Linked DNA regions of Homo sapiens: region 2 is linked to region 1. The links come from fine-mapping of genetic effects on gene expression. Tissue or cell type: left ventricle. Region 1 holds a variant in brackets; the other region holds the start of a gene. All regions are shown on one strand. Distances are from middle to middle.

The links. PIP is the estimated chance that this variant, and not a neighbour inherited with it, causes the effect. A credible set is the group of variants that fine-mapping cannot tell apart.
Region 2: it holds the start of SLC30A2, and the variant in region 1 is the best candidate, but not a certain one, in a credible set for the expression of SLC30A2 in left ventricle (GTEx, PIP 0.81).

Annotation. Positions count from the first base shown.
Region 1 is chr1:26,068,563-26,076,298 of GRCh38, reverse strand. No RefSeq gene overlaps it. Among named protein-coding and RNA genes, the nearest start is that of TRIM63, 4.8 kb to the right of the region's middle. The variant C/T (reference allele first, on the strand shown) is at 3,560.
Region 2 is chr1:26,043,808-26,047,807 of GRCh38, reverse strand. SLC30A2 (solute carrier family 30 member 2) reads left to right here and starts at 1,690. Exons shown (of 8, transcript NM_001004434.3): 1 at 1,690-1,961; 2 at 2,591-2,811; 3 at 3,364-3,510. The coding sequence starts at 1,912. RefSeq lists an enhancer at 2,091-2,659.

The sequences.
Region 1 (7,736 bases):
GTTTATATGTTGCACAGTTTATAAAGCACTTTCAATACTTCATTTCAGGATCATCAGTGCAGAGCCCCCTCCTGACCCTACTTGCCTCCATTTGCCCTGGGGCAGTCCCTTTCTCTAAAGACCACCCACTCCCCAGAGCCTTTGTAGCTGTCCACAAGCATTATCTGGTCCTGGGGACAGTGGGAGGAGGCCTGTGTGGCTCCCAGCCCAGGCCATGAGTGAGTAGGTCCTGGGACATTCTGCTCCCCTTCTGTGGCATGCAGGCCAGGCCCAGTGGACTTTGCCCTGGCACTGAGGGCACTGCTTCATGTCCCAGACCCCATAGACCTGCCTCTGCCAACTGCTCCAGCTTTAGCCACTAGATCAAATGACCCATTGGTTTGATCCTGTGATTTGGGATGATTCTTCAATGAGGATGACATCAAAGCATGTGATACGGATCTTAAACCATAAGAAAAAAACAGTCCCTGTGCCACGCCTGTTCCACTTCCTGAGGGTGCTCCAAGCAGAGGCTTGAGGGGAAATGCAGAGCAAGGCAGGGCAGACCTCACACTCCTAGGGAGGAAATGAGGGAGAACAGGTACACACATGTGAAAAAGATCTGCTCCATGATGTACCAGGGAAGCACTTCCACAAGCCTGAACTATGTGGACATGAAAGGGGAGATGGACAGTTGTTTCCTCTCCAGCATCACCACCCCTTGGGCCTGTGTCATCACCGGAGCACTCCTCTGAGAACTTGGCCACTGGGGATGTGGAAGGACCATTCAGGATCATCTCCTGTAGATGCTCCATTTGGCAGATGAAGAAACTGAGGGTGGGTATGGTTTGCAGGGCATCACATTTCAGGTCTCCAACAGAGATGGAGATGGAACCCAGGTGTCTGGGCCCTAGGCCAGGGTTTTCTCCTCTGAACCAAGAGGCATCAAAAAAATCTCAGATCTCTGAAAAGTTCCCTTTCTAGAGACAATTAAAAAAAAAACAAAAACATAGGCTGGTAACGATGGCTCATGCCTGTAATCCCAGCACTTTGGGAGGCTGGGGCAGGCAGATCACCTGAGGTCAGGATTTAGAGACTGGCCAACATGGTGAAAACCCATCTCTACTAAAAATACAACAAATTAGCCAGGCGTGGTGGTGGGCACCTGTAATCTCATCTACTCGGGAGGCTGAGGCATGAGAATCGCTTGAACCCAGGAGGTGGAGGGTGCAGTGAGCTGAGATAGCGCCACTGCACTCCAGCCTGAGTGACAGACAGCAAGACTCTGTCTAAAAAAAGAAAAAGAAAAAGCATAGACTTTGAGGGTTAAACAGGCCTGTTGCAGCTTTGCCTACATGAGCTGTGGGTCTTGGGGCAACTCCATACCCTAAACTGTGCCTCATCTGTGAAATGAGGACAATAAGTATGACATGTATACTTGAAAATTGCTAAGAGAGTAGATTTTAAGTGTTCCCACCATGAAACAATAAGTATGTGAGGTCATGCATATGTTAAATAGCTTGATTTAGCCATTCCACAATATATACATATATCAAAACATCATGTGGTACACCATAAATATATGCAATTTTTACTTGTCGATTAAAAAAATTTAAGGATAACCTATTTATAGTTGTTGTGAGGACTGAATAAAATAGTGCCTCAAAACTCTTTGTAGATGCCCAGCCACTTGCAAGCACTGAAATCAATAAAACACAGCATTATAATTGCTATTACCCTCTACCTCCCCTTTTTCCTTGCCAGGCCTAGACCATTCTCCCTGATGCCTTGCCTGTCTTCTACCCAGCTGGGACCCTCTTGGGCACTACAGCTTCCTACACTCATGACACAGACTTTGGGAGCAATTCTAAATGACAGGTCTGTTGCTTAGCTGGGTGACTTTCTACAAGTCACTTAAGCTTCAGTGCCTGATATATAAAAATGAGAATCATAATACCCAGAATAATTCTCTGATAAATCAATGGCACAGAAGAATGAGAGGGATGACAGTTGTTACAGTTTAAAAGAGATCCATGAGACAAAAACAACAGAGGTCTCAGCCTGAGTAACGGAGTGAGACCCTGTCTCAGAAAAAAAAAAACTTTAATTATTGTTTGTTAACATAATGGCATGGTGATTATGTAACAAAAATCCTTATCTATGAGAAATGCATATTGGAGTATTTATGGGTGAAATGACTTAATGTCTAACATTTTCTTTAAAATATTTTAGAAAAGGCTGGGCACGGAGGCTGAGGCAGAGAATTGCTTGAACCCAGGAGGTGGAGGTTGCAGTGAGCCAAGATTGCACCACTTCAGCCAGCCTGGACAACAGAGTGAGACTCCTTCTGAGAAAAGAAAAGAAAAGAAAAAATAAGAAAAGAAAAGAGGCTGGGTGCAGTGGTTCACGCCTGTAATCCCAGCACTTTGGGAAACCAAAGTGGGAGGATCACCTGAGGTCAAGAGTTTGAGACCAGCCTGGCCAACATAGTGAAACCTTGTCTCTACTAAAAGTAAAAACAAAATTAGCTGGGCGTGATGGCGAGTGCCTGTAATCCCAGTTACTCGGGAGGCTGAGGCAGAAGAATCGCTTGAACCTGGGAGGTGGAGGTTGCAGTGAGCCAAGATCACGCCACTGCACTCCAGGCTGGACAATAGAGTGAGACTTTGTTTCAAAAAAAAAAATTTAGACAAAAGAAGCGTGGGCCAGGCACGGTAGCTCACGTCTGTAATCCCAGTAGCTTGGGAGGCTGAGGTGGGCTGATCACTTGAGGTCAGGAGTTCGAGACCAGCCTGGCCAACATGGTGAAACCCCGTCTCTACTAAAAATACAAAAATTAGCCGGGTATTGTGGCATGCGCCTGTAATCCCAGCTACTCGGGAGGCTGAGGCAGGAGAATTGCTTGAACCCGGGAGGCAGAGGTTGCAGTGAGCCAAGATCGCACCAATGCACCCCAGCTTGCGCAACAAGAGCGAAACTCCGTCTCAAAAAAAAAAGAAAGAAAAGATAAAAGAAGTGTATGGGAATATTGGGGCAATGATTAACGAGTTAAGCTGGGTTTGATTACGTGAGCCCATTATACTGTTCTCTCTAGTTTTGTGTGTTTGAAACTTTCATTCATAAGGAATAAAAATAAATGAAGTGACTTGCAGAGAGGGAGGCAGTAAATATAGTGGTTAAGAGCTCTGGGTCCAGACACCCACTGGTGTTCCGTAATTGTCTCTTCATCTGCCAGTACTATAGTGTTACGGTATGTTCTCATAACTGTAATGATGCTGGTTTATAACTTCCTGATTCTGATGCTGGCTCTGCTACCCACTGCTGGGGGACTTTGTCTGTGTGACTTATCCTCACTGAGCCTCTGAAGCTCACCTGCAAAACAGGGAAAATTATGATCCCTGCTGTACCAAGTTATTTGGAGGACTGAACGGGAGGATGGATGGAAAGGACTTAGCACAATGCCTGAACATAATAAGCGCTCAGTAAATCCTCCAGTGAGGGGAGCACAGGTTGAAGAATCAGGCTGCCGTGGATATGAACCCCAGCTCGGCTCTGCCACTTGTGGCTGTGTGACTCTGGC[C/T]AAGCCAATTAACTCTCTGAGCCTCATTTCCTCCTGGGAAAAAACCCGAAGATCATAAAACCTCCCCTGCAGGACTATGGTGAGGATTAAATGACATGTTTTGATGTCCAGCACAGCCCACGTGGGAATTTCCCTTCCTCACCCCTTGACTTTCAGCAGCACTGGCCTTGCCAGCGCCCCGGCTGGAATCGATCCCACTGTCCATTTGTTTGGCATCTGCACCTGGACTGCCAAGTGCGGCTGGAGAAAGTCAACAGGGCCATGTGAATGGCTCCTCACAAATGACACATCAGTACTGGGAAACATCAGCAAGGCTCTTCTGCCCCTAGACAATCCTTCCATTTCTCTCCAGGGCACTTCCTGTTGTGTTCCACACTGGCCAGTCCAAATCTTTTTCACCACTGATTCCTAAGCCTCAGAAGTTGACCTCAATGCTCTCTTGATCAAGGTCATCAAATATGAACACCTTTCTCTCCACCTCCCAACACCTCCATCCATTCCTCTCCTTCCATCCTTCCAACTCAAAGGTTGGAGCGTCCCTCTCTTTCCCAAGGCTTTAGAATTTACTCCATCATCCCCAAAACCCCATCTCCAGTACTTTTTTTCCATTGGCTGCACCAACTCAGCCAAAAAAAAAAACAACAACAAAAAAAAAAAAACTGCTGGGCGCAGTGGCTCACGCCTGTAATCCCAGCACTTTGGGAGGCCGAGGCGGGCAGATCACGAGGTTAGGAGATCGAGACCATCCTGGCCCACATGATGAAACCCCGTCTCTACTAAAAATACAAAAATTAGCTGGGCATGGTGGTGGGTGCCTGTAATCCCAGCTACTCGGGAAGCTGAGGCAGGAGAATGGCTCGAACCCGGGAGGCAGAGGTTGCAGTGAGCCAAGTTCACACCACTGCACTCCAGCCTGGTGAAGAGCGAGACTCTGTCTCAAAAAAAAAAAAAAAACTTGCTCAAGTATCTGAACCTTCTCCAAGTCTGACAGTGATGCAGCTGCTCCTTTATATTTAACCCACTCATTCACTTGTCCACTCATTTCAGAATCTTTGTTTTTTTTGAGACAGGGTCTCACTCTGTCACCCAGGCTGGAGTGCAGTGGTGTGATCACAGCATGCTGCAGCCTCAACCTCCCAGGCTCAAGCAATCCTCCCACCTCAGTCTACTGAGTAGTTGGGACTACAGATGGGCAACACTACGACCAGCTAATTTTTAATTTTTTGTAGAGATAGTATCTCACTATGTTGCCCAGGCTGGTCTCACACTAACTCCTGGGCTCAAGTGATCCTTCCACCTTGACCTCCCAAAGTGCTGGGATTATAGGTGTGAGCTACCGCGCCCAGCCAAGAAACATTTGTTGAGTGCCTACTAGGTACCAGGCATTGGGGGTACAGAGATGAATAGAGACCATCTTTGCCCTCAATGTCTTCAAAGTCCAGAGAGAGAGTCGGACTCACAAGCAGACGATGGTAATACGGCAAGTGAGATGCAAAGATGGGCCATGCCTGACACAGAGATTAAGTAGGCATGTGATGAGAAGAAGAGGGAGCCCTAAGATGACTCTCAGCTTCCTGGTTGGTGCAAATGGGTGGACAGTAGTGCTGTTCACTAAGATGCGAGACAAGAAAAATGGAGGGAGGAGCTAGGTATCGGGGAAGATGGTGTATTCTGGCTGGAGTATGATGAATTTGAGATACTATTAGAACATCCCAGTAGAAATCTCCAACAAATCTTTAGCTTAGGGGAGAGAGGAGAAGTCGGAACTGGAATTAGAGAGTTGAGAATCATCAGCATATGGGAGTCGGAATCATGCAGGTTTATGAGGTGCTTACTGCTTCAAGTAACAGAGTAATTACACTATAATGGCATTTGTAATCTCACGTCTTAAGTAGTCAAGAGACAGGCAGCTCTAGGGTTGGATAAATTGGCAACAAAATGATGGCATCTCTAACCCAGGTGCCTCCTATGGTTCCTCTATGCTATCCTCAGGGTGTTGACATCATCCTCAGCCTTGTCCCCTTGTGGTTGCAAGATAGCTGCTCTACCCTCTCACAGCCCCATTCAAAGGTATGGACAAAGCTTTCTTCTTGCACATTCATTTTTATTGTGGAGGAAATCCTTTATCTTTAGCCAACAGACATATCCTTGGGTCTCATTGACCATAACTGCATCATTAGGCAAAAGAGAATGGGGTTGTATGATAGGCTTAAACTGTGTGTGACTCATCTCCTGAGGCAGTGGAGAGGGCCATCTTCCTGGAGCACAATGCTGCCAATGCCTGAACTAAACTGAGGTCCCATGAGCAAGGAAGAAGAAGTGGCCTTTTTTCAGTCAGTGTTGACTTGACCTAAACACAGTTCAATAGAGTCTACATGAGGAGCTTGGGTTCCTAAGTCAAGCATATTTGGGTTCATGTCCTAGAGCCACCTCGTGCTATCGGTGGGACCTCATACAAGTTATTTTACCTGTGTGCCTGAGTTTCCTCACTTGTGGAATGGGGATATTATGGGTCTTTTGTTATTGGCTATTGAGATGGTAAAATGAAATAATGCATACAAAGCATTTAGCACAATGCATAGCACATAGTAAGTGCTCAGCAAAACCTAAGTGCTCAGCAAAATTTTGGGGGGACAACTCTCTCCTCGAAATCCTCCAGCCCTTTGTTTTTAAGGCCTCTTCTTTTTTCTGTAACTTGTCCCTCTTCTTCTCCCATTTCCTCTCTTCCAAGGTTTGCTTCTCTGCTCTATGTCTTGTCTCATTGCTCCCATCATTCCTCTTTCCTGAAATCCTTCATACTCCTCCTGAGTATTCCACAGCCTCTTAGGCTCATCTTGGGCCCTGATACCACTGCTCCATATCTCTGCCCCATCGCCTTGGACCAGATGACCCCACAGTCCTTTCATTAGATGCTACCTTAAAAACAGCTACTGGAGGCCAGGTACAGTGGCTCACGCCTGTAATCCCAGCACTTTGGGAGGTCGAGGCAGGTGGATTGCCTGAGGTCAGGAGTTCGAGACCAGCCTGGCTAACATGGTGAAAACCTGTCTCTATTAAAAATACAAAAATTAGTCGGGTGTCATGACACATGCCTGTAGTCCCAGCTACTCAGGAGGCTGAGGCAGGAGATTCACTTCAACCTGGGAGGCGGAGGTTGCAGTGAGCTGAGATGGCGCCACTGCACTCCAGCCTCTGGGCAACACAGTGAAACTACATCTCGGGAAAAAAAAAAAAAAAAACCAGCCACTGGAACTGCTCTAATGACTTCTACTTGCCAACGTGGAAGATGTCCTAAAATACATGGAGAAAAGTTAAAATGTGTGCAGCGAGCTGAGGGACGCCTTCTAAGTGTCCAGGCAGGGCTTTGTGGCACCGCATGAGGGGTTTCCCTTTCTTTCTTTCTTTTTTCTTTTTCTTTTTTTTTTTTTTTTGGAGACAGAGTCTCACTCTATCACCGGGCTGGAGTGCGGTGGTGCAATCTCGACTCACCGCAACCTCCTCTTCCTGGGTTCAAACGATTCTCCTGCCTCAGCCTACTGAGTAGCTGGGATTATAGGCACCTGCCATCATACCCAGCTAATTTTTGTATTTTTAGTAGAGACAGGGTTTCACCATGTTGGCCAGGATGGTCTCCATCTCCTGACCTCGTGGTCTGCCCACCTCGACCTCCTAAAGTGCTGGGTTTACAGGCGTGAGTCACTGTGCCCTCTGGGTTTTTCCTTTCTATCTCCCTTCCTGGGCTGTGAGTTTCTTGGGGCAGGGAAACAGATCACTCATCCATCTGTCACGTTGTGATGTATACTAGTTACCTGATGTATACTAGTACTCAGAAAAATGTCTGATGAATGAATAAAATTTCTGTCTTTGCCACTTATTTTCTTTCTTTTTTGTTTTGTTTTGTTTTGTTTGGAGATGGCGTTTCACTCTTGTCACCCAGGCTGGAGTGCAGTGGCGCGATCTCAGCTCACTGCAACCTCCACCTCCTGGGTTCAAGTGATTCTCCTGCTTCAGCCTCCTGAGTAGCTGGGATTACAGGCGCGTACCACCACACCCAGCTAAGTTTTGTGTTTTTAGTAGAGACAGGGTTTTACCATGTTGGCCAGGCTAGTCTCGAACTCCTGACCTCAAGTGATCCACCTGCCTCAGCCTTCCAAAGTGCTGGGATTACAGGTGTGAG
Region 2 (4,000 bases), 27 kb after region 1:
CTGGCCAACATGGTGAAACCCTGTCTGTACTAAAAATACAAAAATTAGCTTGGCATGGTCGTGGGCACCTGTAATCCCAGCTACTCAGGAAGCTGAGGCAGGAGAATCACTTGAATCCGGGAAGCAGAGATTGCAGTGAGCTGAGATTGCAGTCGAGCCTGGGCGACAGAGACAGAAATGAAACTCTGTCTCAAAAACAAACAAACAAAAAAACCACTATACATAAAAATGAACAATGATGCCACAATAGCACCAGAGAATTTTATAAATACAGATTCCCAGGCCCTGCCCCAGACCTACTGAATCCTGGAAATATTCAGGCTCCACACCCAGAGATTCTGGTTCGGTTGGTCTGATGCAGGGACCTGTAACCTGCGTTGTAACACCTTCTCCAGGTAATGCTGAGCCTGCTGGTGCTCAGAGTAGACAGACCTGGAGAAAACCAGGGTGTCTGAGGTTTTCCAGAAGAAAACCAGAGTCCAGAGAAGCAGAGAGGCACTCAGTGAGGACCCAAGCAGAGCGGGTGCACCTCACATCCTCACTCCTGGCACCCCGTCTCCTACAAGATGAGAGACTGAAAGAGCCCCTTCCTGTCCCCAGTGGTGTGGGCAAGAGGCCTGCACCTCTGACTCTTGGCTCTGTGAAAGGCCATACCCACCAAGCCTATGGTCCTAGCGACAAAGGGTGCTGGGGAGACGAATTGACCAGACAGGGAGGTCTCCAGCAGCTTCTTTCTACACAGAGGGCACCTGTCAGAGGCCAGCGTGGGGGCCACAGGCTCCCCAATCCCCAAGAACCGCCAGGGAAGGAGGCTGCTTCAAGTGGGTGGGGCACCAAGCTGGCCAGGAAGGACAGGGCTTCTCCCAGCGGTACCAACACGGTGGCACCTCCGGCCTGCATCTCCCAGGCTTGCTTGTCAGGCTTCCTGGGGCTCCCAGGAGCCGCTGCGGGGGAGGGGAGAAGGGGTGGCAGCAGTGGCAGTGGTCGTCTCTGCTCCGATGGTGACTGCCGATGACACTGTTCTCTGTGCGGGTGGAGACAAAGCCGGCCACTCCAGATTCTCCTGCGCGCAGGAGAGGAGGAGCTGGCGCTGCTTCAGTGGCGAGGATGGGTCGATCAGTCCCAGCCGGTCCTAGGGAGAGACACTGCCCCAGCCTGAGGGCGGCGCAGCCCACCCCACCCCAGGACCCTCCTAGCAGGAGGACAGGAACGCAAGCCGACCTCGGGGGGTCTCCGGCCTGAGAGGGGAACATGATCAAGCCCAGGGCAGCCGCCAGTCGGAGGGGGCAGACGCGGCCCCAGTAGCCTCTGGAGACCCTCTTCCGAGGCAAGGAGCCACATTCCTGCCGTCGGGACCACCAAAGCGGATTTCTACAAACTAAAGTCGAGAACTTTTCGGCGGCGAGGCGGCGCACCCCGCGCGGGAGAGGGGGCGCAGGCGTCACCCCGTCCTCACTCAGCAACACCCGGCGCCGCGCCGGGCGAAGGCTGGCAAACTTCTCGCGGCCGGCAGGTGGGCTCCGCGGGCCCCATGGGCGCAGGCACAGGTGTGCGGGGCCACAGCCGGGCCTTTTGCAGCCGGCGACCGCCCCCCCTTCCCCGCGGGCTTTTGCACACGACGCGCCGACGGCAGCTTCACACGGGTTGGCGAGGGCCGGATAAAGCCGGCGGCCGCGGGGCGCAGCGGCTGACCCGAGACACGGGAGCGCTTGGCACGCGGAGCCAGAGCCGGAGCTGCAGCCGCAGCGGGAGCCGGGGGAGCTCAGGGGCCGCAGGAGCCGGGCCGGAGTGAGCGCACCTCGCGGGGCCCTCGGGGCAGGTGGGTGAGCGCCACCCGGAGTCCCGCGCGCAACTTTCAGGGCGCACTCGGCGGGGCGGCTGCGCGGCTGCCGGGACTCGGCGCGGGACTGCATGGAGGCCAAGGAGAAGCAGCATCTGTTGGACGCCAGGCCGGCAATCCGGTAAGGCGAGAGCCTGGGGACGGGCGGGAATTTTGGCGGCAGCCGACGCACCTCCGCATTTGCCATCCTAGCAGTGGTTGGTTTTGGCTGCGGCTTGAGCTGGGACCATGCAGGAGGGGTGGGGTGAGGTGAGGGAACGAAGATAATGGGCTGTGGCCCAAGGACCGTCTCTCCCTTGGGGCGCAGCCCAGATTCTGACCCCTGCCCGCGGGGGGCCTGGGGCCGGGGGATTGGCGGTTCCCATGCCTGGAGTCCCGCCCCGCCCAGCACTTTGCCCCAGGCAGCCCCGCCCCGGGGAGGCCCTGTGTCCCAAGTGCGCTGGAGGGGGCCTGCTGTTCTCCCAGAGCCTGCGCTCTGTTCCTTCCCCGCGCTCCACTGGACAGCACGCCCCTTGGCCGGTTCCCAGGGTCTTCACCTCCTCTGGCCTCTGAAGGGCCCCGGGCCCCAGGACTCCCATTCCCCTATCATCCCCGTCTGAATACAGGCTTCTCACCTCTGGTTTGTCGAGCTCGGAGCGTCCTTAGCTATTTTTCCCAGTGGACACAAGGCCTCACAGAGAAATGGGACTAGAGTCGGCCCTCCTTACCTCATCTCAGAGCTGAGCGTTCCCTCTCTTCCCCTCTGGCCAGGTCATACACGGGATCTCTGTGGCAGGAAGGGGCTGGCTGGATTCCTCTGCCCCGACCTGGCCTGGACTTGCAGGCCATTGAGCTGGCTGCCCAGAGCAACCATCACTGCCATGCTCAGAAGGGTCCTGACAGTCACTGTGACCCCAAGAAGGGGAAGGCCCAGCGCCAGCTGTATGTAGCCTCTGCCATCTGCCTGTTGTTCATGATCGGAGAAGTCGTTGGTAAGCACTTTTGGGCTAATTAAATGAAGTTGGTGCATGGATAGACTGGATGTTCCCAGCAATACTGACACTAAAAGCCCCAATTACTGAACACACACTACAGTAAGCCTTTATATACACATTATCTGATGCAGGTCTAACAACAACCTGTGTTCTCACATGGGTGACGTTATTCTCCTTACTTTACAGATGATGAAACTGAGGCATGTTCAGGTGAAGTAACTTGCCAAAGATCACGCACAACTCGTAGCTAAGGGAAGGCCTGAATTCCTAGAAGGGAAGAGCATTTACTGAGTATCTGCTATGTTTTCCAGTCCCTATTTGAACTTGATGTGCACATTCACCCTCTAAGTAGATATTGGTGGCCCATTTCACAGAGAGTGGAAGTTGAGGCTCAGAGAGAGTAGGTCACTTGTCACGGTGGTACAGCTCATGGGTAGAGAGATCTTGAGCCCAGAATGTCCTCTTCCAGAGCCTGTGGTCTCCCTGCTGCACACACAGTCTTGGGAGCCAGCTCTCTGGGGGAGCTGATAAGGACCCTCCACCCTGCAGGTGGGTACCTGGCACACAGCTTGGCTGTCATGACTGACGCAGCACACCTGCTCACTGACTTTGCCAGCATGCTCATCAGCCTCTTCTCCCTCTGGATGTCCTCCCGGCCAGCCACCAAGACCATGAACTTTGGCTGGCAGAGAGCTGGTGAGGATCGCGGTTTGGCTGGAGATGGGGTTGAGAGAGAGGGTGGGTTAGAACAGGGGTTCTTAGGTGGCTGTAATGGGTGGATCCCCCCTTCCTCCCCTGAGTGAGGCCAGGAGGGTGATCTGGATGGGGGAAGAGGATGTCAACCATGGCCTCTGTCCTCTGGGAAATCCTAGTCTGATGGGGGAGCCCTGGTCCCAGTCATCCAGGAGCTCTCAGTCTGCAGGGAAGCAAAGTTGACCTTCCTAAGAAGTGCAGTAGCCAAGCTTCAAGAACAAATGACAATGGCATTAACACTGCACATAACTCTGTGGATCAGCTCTGGGGGGAGGGGAAGGCCAGCAAAGGCTGCTGGAAGATATAGGCTTTAACCTCTCTTCCGTTCACCCTGGACTGCATCGTCACCTTCCTCTTTGTGGGAGATGGCCCAGCCTGTCTTCCCCAGAAGCCTCAGTTTACTAGCTGAACAAAAGGCACATACTTTAATAAG